2 linked regions of the Homo sapiens genome follow. The protein of the gene in region 1 interacts with the protein of each later gene in a biochemical or structural test. Each region holds a gene or a part of one and is shown on either strand. Other genes may lie near its edges.

What was found.
Region 2: the proteins of SNAP29 (region 1) and STX7 form a complex in vitro, tested with the Homo sapiens proteins (one study listed by BioGRID).

The regions. Positions count from the first base shown.
Region 1 is NC_000022.11:20,865,507-20,869,328, reverse strand, and holds part of SNAP29 (synaptosomal-associated protein 29), read right to left. Parts: intron 1-3,822. UniProt on the Homo sapiens protein: SNAREs, soluble N-ethylmaleimide-sensitive factor-attachment protein receptors, are essential proteins for fusion of cellular membranes.
Region 2 is NC_000006.12:132,446,963-132,450,784, reverse strand, and holds part of STX7 (syntaxin-7), read left to right. Parts: 3' UTR 1-3,822. UniProt on the Homo sapiens protein: May be involved in protein trafficking from the plasma membrane to the early endosome (EE) as well as in homotypic fusion of endocytic organelles. Mediates the endocytic trafficking from early endosomes to late endosomes and lysosomes.

The sequences.
Region 1 (3,822 bases):
GACATCTTCCCTAAAGGAGAATTCCTTCTTCCAACCACTACCCCTCTTCTCCACCTCCTTTTCTGTTTTGAGATGGAGTCTTGCTCTGTCACCCAGGCTGGAGTGCAGTGGCGTGATATTAGCTCACTGCAACTTCTGCCTCCTGTGTTCAAGCGATTCTCCTGCCTCAGTCTCCTGAGTAGCTGGGATTCCAGGCGCCTGCCACCATGCCTGGCTAGTTTTTTGTATTTTTGGTAGAGACGGGGTTTCACCATGTTGGCCCGGCTGGTCTCGAACCACCCGCCTCGGCCTCCCAAAGTGCTGGGATTACAGGCATGAGCCACCGCTCACAGCATATGAGCTCCACGAGGCAGGGACTTGCTCTGTTCACTGCTGAGTCTCTGCAAATCTGCCCAATGGAGACGTGAGTGATGCTCTGTGGCCACAGTGGCAGCCTGATGGTCCCTCCAGAGCTGATGGTTCTGGTTGTGGATATACATTCACAACATCAACACTACCACTTTCCTTTATTTACGACAAACTTGCTTCAGTCCCTAGTTCAGAACTGATCTACAGCTGCGGCCCATCTGTGAGCTGCCTTTCCAGCCAGAAGGCTCTCGAGCTTCATTTTTCCTGCTCTGTCAGGCAGCCTCTGCCCTCAGCTGCCTTCCTCTGAATCTATCCACCCATCACCCTGTGGCTTAGCAATTACACTAACTATGCAAATGTTTTTTAGATATATTCTCTCTTGATGCCTAAAAACAAAGTCAAAAAAAATTTTAAACATCCTGGAAACCTGAAGAGCAAAATGCAACTATAAATAAATGGTTGTGGCTTCCTTAAAGTCCTTAAGGAATCAATGTGTAACCTGAGTCCTTGTTTAATGGGTGAAATTTAAAAACATAATGTATAGGCAAAAAGCTAAAACACTGGTTGGTTGAATTTACTATTAAACTTTGTTTAACTCTTGCTGGAAATAAACTTAGAACTGCTGAATTTTACAGCTTTCAACGTTTATGTTTTTCACTAGTTCACAAGAGATGTCTGAACAAACCATCAGCCTTTTTTAAGTAAAAAAAAGATGTTTTCTGGATAGTGTCACTCAGTATGTCAAGCAAATCTTGCAAGGGCTAGTTTTCAAAAGAAAAAAGAGCTGCTAATGTATCTGGCATTTCTGCTCCTTCCATCACCTCAAGTTTATCATCTTCATGTCCACACTGCGGTCTTCTCTGGAATAAGGCAGAGCTATACGTTAGGATTAACAGATTTTCTCCAGCATCTACATGTTTTTCTGACAGTCCAGTTCCAGCTAGCTTTGCAGGCTGCAGAAGAAGCTTTCCAGTAGCTGGAAAGACACTCAGAGCAGCCAGGTTGGGGACTGGGGAATGAAGAGGTGGCCAAGACTCTGCTGTCACATTAGGAGGGAGGTCCTCAGCTTCCCTGATGGTGAGCTCCTCCCATCAGGGCCAACCCACGACCACTCACCCTCCCACCCTGACCTCCTCATCTCAATTTGGAGAGCTACCTTCCCCAGTATGGACTTATTTTCTCTTATTCACAAGAGACACATTCTCTCAAACTCCCAGAGTCTGTGCTACTGTTAAGGAAACCAGATGGCTGATTTAGATGTTTAGATGGGAGCACAGAGAAGTCTGTGAGGGTGGCTTATCTTGCCTGTGAGGCTGGAAGGCCAGGCGACTGAGTGCTGCTCTGGCCTCTGGAAGTTTCTGTTTGCTGAAAGCTAGTGTTCACCAGAGGTCATGAGGCCAGCAAGGGAGGAGTTGTTTCTTCTGCTAAAATCCACCCCCAGAAGGCAGAGGAAATGACCGGACTTAATGTGCTTGTGACCTAGTTCCAACCAATGAGGAAGAAGGGTTTGACAGAGCAAACACCAAAATACCAGGAAAGAGAACACTGACAGTCTGTAAGGACAGGCCAGGCAGACACCTGTGCCCCAGCCACCACCAAGACAGGCCTCAACCGCTCCAGGTACCGAGGCAGGTCCACACCCCCCTCCGCAGAGCCACGGCCCATCTTCTCCAACTTCCCGTGGGAGAATGAGGTCCCTGAACGGACTTGGGTGGCTGCTAGGGGAGTGAGCTCCGCAGGTGCCCTCAGTGTAAAGGACGCACATGCAAAGTGCTTCCTTGTTTCAGTGATTACTAAGCATTACAGGTGATGCCCTTCTTACTCCCTTGAACCCCAACAAGAGTTCTCTCTTTGTCCACGAAACAATCCCAAGTCTCTGTCCTGATGGTGTTTACAGTCTAACAGAGAGCAAGATGAGTGAGGTTCAATCTCAGCTTTTCATTTGTTGACAACATTGCAATGCTCGGAATCCAAGAAAGGCAGATGAGTCCTTGCTTCACTGAGCTTACAGTCCTGTGGGGGAGGCAGAAACTAAAGCTACTGCACGCGTGCACACAAACACATACACACACAGAGTCACCTCTCCCTGCAGACTCTTTGTTTAGCTTAAGGTGGGGGTCAGAGAGGCTCCCTGTTGAGGCTGGAGGAGAGACTGAGAAGTTAGGCAGTCAGAAAGTTGGGGGTCCTGTCCATTTGGACTTAGTTTTCCTAAAAACAAATCACAACGAAGAGTTGGGGTGGGGCAAGGGCACCAGGCAGAGGGTGCAGCTTGTGCAGGGGCAGAGGAACCGTGTGGGGAGTGAGCGGGGCTACCCACAGGACTCGGCAGGGAACACCCACAGGATGTCACTAAGGCCTTCAAAGGGCAGCAGTGACCAACAGATCTCAACTGCAACTCGCAGCCAACACATCTTATAACATCAGGTGGGCTTCCGTGACCGAGACCTCCCCAGGTTCCTGACGGAAGGGCATCAATACTGTGTTTCTCATACTGAGCTCGTAAACTCAGGTTCTGATAAATGAGGTTCATCATAAGTAGACGGAGGCCAATCTGGAGTCAGTGAGCTGAATCTAGAAATCTGAAATTTATCTTTGTTCCATCTCTCCCTTCCCAAGGGAGTGTGCACAGGCACAAGCCTTGGCAGGGATACGTGAGCACCCATGGCAGATGCTCAAACCCGGGGCTCTGACTGTGGCAGCTGGAGTATGGGGTGGATTCAGAGACAAATCGGGTCTTAGGGTGCAGGAAAAACCACCAAGGGCAAAGGCGGTAGTGCTGGTGCCCCTCGCCGTCTGTGTGCAGGCCAACCTGGGGCTGAGCAAAAGGCTAGCTCAGCAGCTCTGGGTTGTCCATACACTCCACATTCCAAAGAGAGGTGTGGCCCTAGCCTGGTTCCTTGTTTTTGGAATATCCTGCCTGATAAGAGTGTCCTTGCTCAAGTGAGCCTAAGCTTAGACCAGGTCAGACAGACTATGCTAACAATGTGATATATGATGGTGGCCTTGGGCTACACGTTATCAGCTTGACCTCTGGTGGGGTTGGAGACTATACTCAGCCATGCCTATGTGACAGACTCCCCAAAAAACTCTGGACACCCAGGCTTAAGTGAGGGTCCTTGGTTGACAATACTCTGTGTGTGTTGTCACGCACTGCTTGGAGAAGTGTTGTCCACATGACTCCATGGGGAGAGGACAACTGGAAGCTTGTGCCTGGTTTCCCCTGGACGCTGCCCTATGCACTTTTTTCATTTGATGGTTTTAATCAGCATCTTTTCATTGTAAGAAACCATCACCATACGTGTAACAGTTCTGTGCATCCTTCCAGTGAATCAGTGAAGTTGAGGGTAGTCTTGGGAACCCCCAAACACCTCCCTACAACACTTCCCACTCTAAGAACACCTCAGAGGCAGAAAGCTGTATAGCAGATGGCCGCTCAGCTTGTCACAGCATGTTTCCTGGTCAGCAAAGCAAGGT
Region 2 (3,822 bases), on another chromosome or scaffold:
GTAAGTCCCTGAGGTTCTGTTCATCTTTGTTCTGCCTGTTTTCTTCTGTTGTTCAGACTGTGTAATTTCTATCATTTTATCTTCAGATTTATTCATTCTTTCTGCAGTAGCTTCCATTCTGCTATTGAGCCTATCAATTAAGTGTTTCATATTGATTCCTGCATTTTTCAATTTTAAAATTTCTGGCCCTTTACCGAAAATGTTGGTTGACCCCTGGAGTATAAACCTATACTATAGAAGAGAGTATCAATTTTTTTTTTTTTGAGAGGATCAATTTAAACAAAAGTTGGTCTCTTTAAATAAATAAAGTACACATAACTTGGTGAAACCGATTTGGAAAAAAACAGAAGACATAAAAAATTTAGGAATGAAAGTACAGATAAATAACCAAACATAGATTTTAAAATAATAAGACACTATAAACAACTTTATGCCAATATATCACAAAACAGAAAATGAATAATTTATATGAAAAATGCAAATTACCAAAATCAACTACGAAGTAGATGATTTCTGCTTCCTGCCATATGGTTGACTAGGTATACTCAAGGATCCTCCTGCTAAAATACAGTTAGTTCTTGGATAAAATACAACACACATAATATTAGTTCATTTCCTGGCTCATTAGAAAGAAAGATAATCACTAAAGGCTATTACCAATGAGAGTGGGCTAAAATTAAAGTAGTTGAGAAACAGGAAAACTGTGCCTCTGAGACTTAAGCCATGGACTCCAGGCAAAGTAAAGAAAGTGAACCTAAGATTCCTTCATAAAACCAGGAATGCTTTAAAGCATTAAAGTAGTCCTAAGTCAGTGGACTCTGGTGGTTACTCTAAGAAGTGGATGAAAATCCCCTCCGAAGGAAAGCCTCCCTAATTAATGCTTCTAGATTAATCAAACATGCAAGGAAACACACCATTTGCATTGAGAAACAGTAGATTTAGATATTCAAGGAATTCAGGTATTGCAATTAGCAGAAGTAGAATAACAGTTATATGTTTAAATAATGTATGAATTAAAACGAACATGAAATGAGAGATGTGTTAAAAGGCAGATATTAAAAAGAACCAAAGACAACTTAGGTATGAAATTTAATTATTGAAATATATAACATAATGAATGGTTTAAGAGCAGATTCACCACAACTAAAGGAATTGTTGACTATCAAGTTTTAACTGAGGAAACAACATATTGCAGCAAAAACAGGTAAAGGGATAGAAAATAAGAATTAGAGATTATGAGACCTGAAGGATAGAATGGGAAGGTTTAATATGTGCTGATTGGAGTCTAAGAAGTAAAAAATAGAAAAAAATTGAGGTAATTGCTGACAAATTTCCAGAGCTAAGAAAAGCCTGGGACCTGGTATGGTGGCTTATGCCTGTAATCACAGCATTTTGGGAGGCCAAAGCAGAAGGATCACTTGAAGCCAGGAGTTTGAGATCAACCTGGGAAATGAAGCAAGAGCCCCCACTCCATCTCTACAAAAAAAATTAAGAATTAGCCAGATGTGGTGACATGAACCAGTAGTCCCAGCTACTTGGGAGGCTCAAGTGGGAGGATCACTTGAGCCCAAGAGTTTAAGACCAGCCTGAGCAACATGGTGAAACTCCATCTGTACAAAAAATACAAAAATTAGCCAGGCATGGTGGCACACACCTGTGGTCCCAGCTACTCAAGAGGCTGAGGAGGGAGGATCACACGAGCCCAGGAGTTCAAGGCTGCAGTGAGCTATGATGGTGCCACTGTACCCTGTCTAAAAAAAAAAAAAGTGGATCCACATATACAAGAAGCAAAATGTATATCAACCAGGAAAAGGAAGCCAATGTATATTCATTATACTCAAACTTCAGAACAATAAAGGCAAAGATATCTTAAAAGCAGCCAGAATAACTTATCCACTTTTAAAGGAATAACGAATTGACAGACCTTTTTTTTTTTTTTTTTTTTTTGAGACAGAGTCTTGCTCTGTCACCCATGATGGAGTGCAGTGGTGTGATTTCTGCTCACTGCAACCTCCATTTCCCGGGTTCAATTGATTCTCCTGCCTCAGCCTCCCGAGTAGCTGGGAGTACAGGTGTGCGCCACCACAACCTGGCTAATTTTTTTGTATTTTTAGTAAAGACGTGATTTTGCCATGTTGGCCAGGCTGTTCTCGAACTCCTGACTTCAGGTGATCTACCTGCCTTGGCCTCCCAAAATGCTGGGATTAGAGGCATGAGCCACTGCACCTGGCCAACAGTAGACTTTTCAGTGCCAAAACTGGAAGGCAAAAGACAGTGGAATAACATCATTAAGGTACTGAGAGAATAACTCAATAGAATGAGTGCCCAGTGAAATTATCTTTCAAAATCAAGGGTATATTAAAAACACTTTTTTCTCAAAATGAGAATTTACAAACAAGGGACTTTCACTTAAGAATAAAGATGAATTTTAGAGTACAGCAAAATGACTAGGAGGAAAGTCTGAGATGCAAGAAGGTATGGTGAGCTAAAAAATCAGTAATCATGGGAAATGTAAATAAATACTGTCTATATTAAGAAGTATTTACTCTGTGGAGTAAAAAAGAGCGTAATTAAAATACTAGCAACATTTTACATAACTCAGGAAATGTATATGTGGGGAAAGTGTCCGGGAGCACTTAGAAGTTAGTGTGAGTGCTCCAAGATCCTGATACTCTTTAGGATGGAAGTTAAGATAATGAATGACTTTAGATGTTGTTAATCTAAGTACTTAACAGAAAATTTTCAGATAACCTTTAAAGAATAGCAATACAATATAACTTTCAAACCAGTAGAGAGGAAACATTCTGAAATAAGGGAAAAACACTTTAGAAATCCCAACTTTGATAGACCACAAAAATGCAAGAAGGAAGAAAAAGCATAGAAAAAGCAAAGAAATGGCATAGTATATAATAAATGGTTACAATAAATATAAATTGCCTATCTCACCAGATTAATAAAAAAAAAAGTCTACCTTGTTCAATATATACAGTTTACAAAAGACAGTACAAGGACAGAGAAAGACAAAAAGTAGAATTAGGGAAAATAAAACAAGCAAATATACCTGGTTAGGATAGCTGTATCAGTATTAGCCTTACAAATATTAAAGTGAAAAGCATTAATAAGGATAAGGAGACTCTCAAAAATAATAAAAATTTCAACTGAAGTAGGTATAACAGTTCTAAACAAAGTTATTAAAGTAAAAATGTAGAGGGCAAAACGGAAAAAAAAACTATTATGTTGTATTTGAAGTCACTCAATTTTTAGCTCGAGCAGCAAAAAAGTAAATAGAACAACATGGTAACCAAAGTTGATTCAATTAATACATAAAGGATCATGTTCCCCCAATTTAGAGCATGTGCATATTTCTTAAGCATGTATAAAAGATTTAGAAGGAAAATGATAAAGGAATGTTTTGGGGACCTCTGATAGGGAAAGATTTCTTAGAAAATCTGCAAAAGATATTAACCATAATCTACATAAAGTCAACTGTTTTATTTCAAGCCTCTCTGGAAATAGTTTTGTTGACTGATAAGAAACGCTCTATGTCAGTCAGCTAATCAATGTCTAGTGAGTCTAACTCTTTCCACTACACAGTAAGTTCCATCTTAGGGTGTTTTACTTAAAAGCCTGGTGTCAAATGTTACACGCACAAAAACTTATTAGTATCTTTTTAACCAATGTATCTTAGGAGATACGGAATTATTTCTAACACACTGGTTGTATTTACTAATTTTCCGCTGAGCCATCATAAAAATAGAAGTCACATCGTCACTATTTCTTGCTTGTCCAACCCAGTGTCTATGGTACCCTCGGCAGTTATTC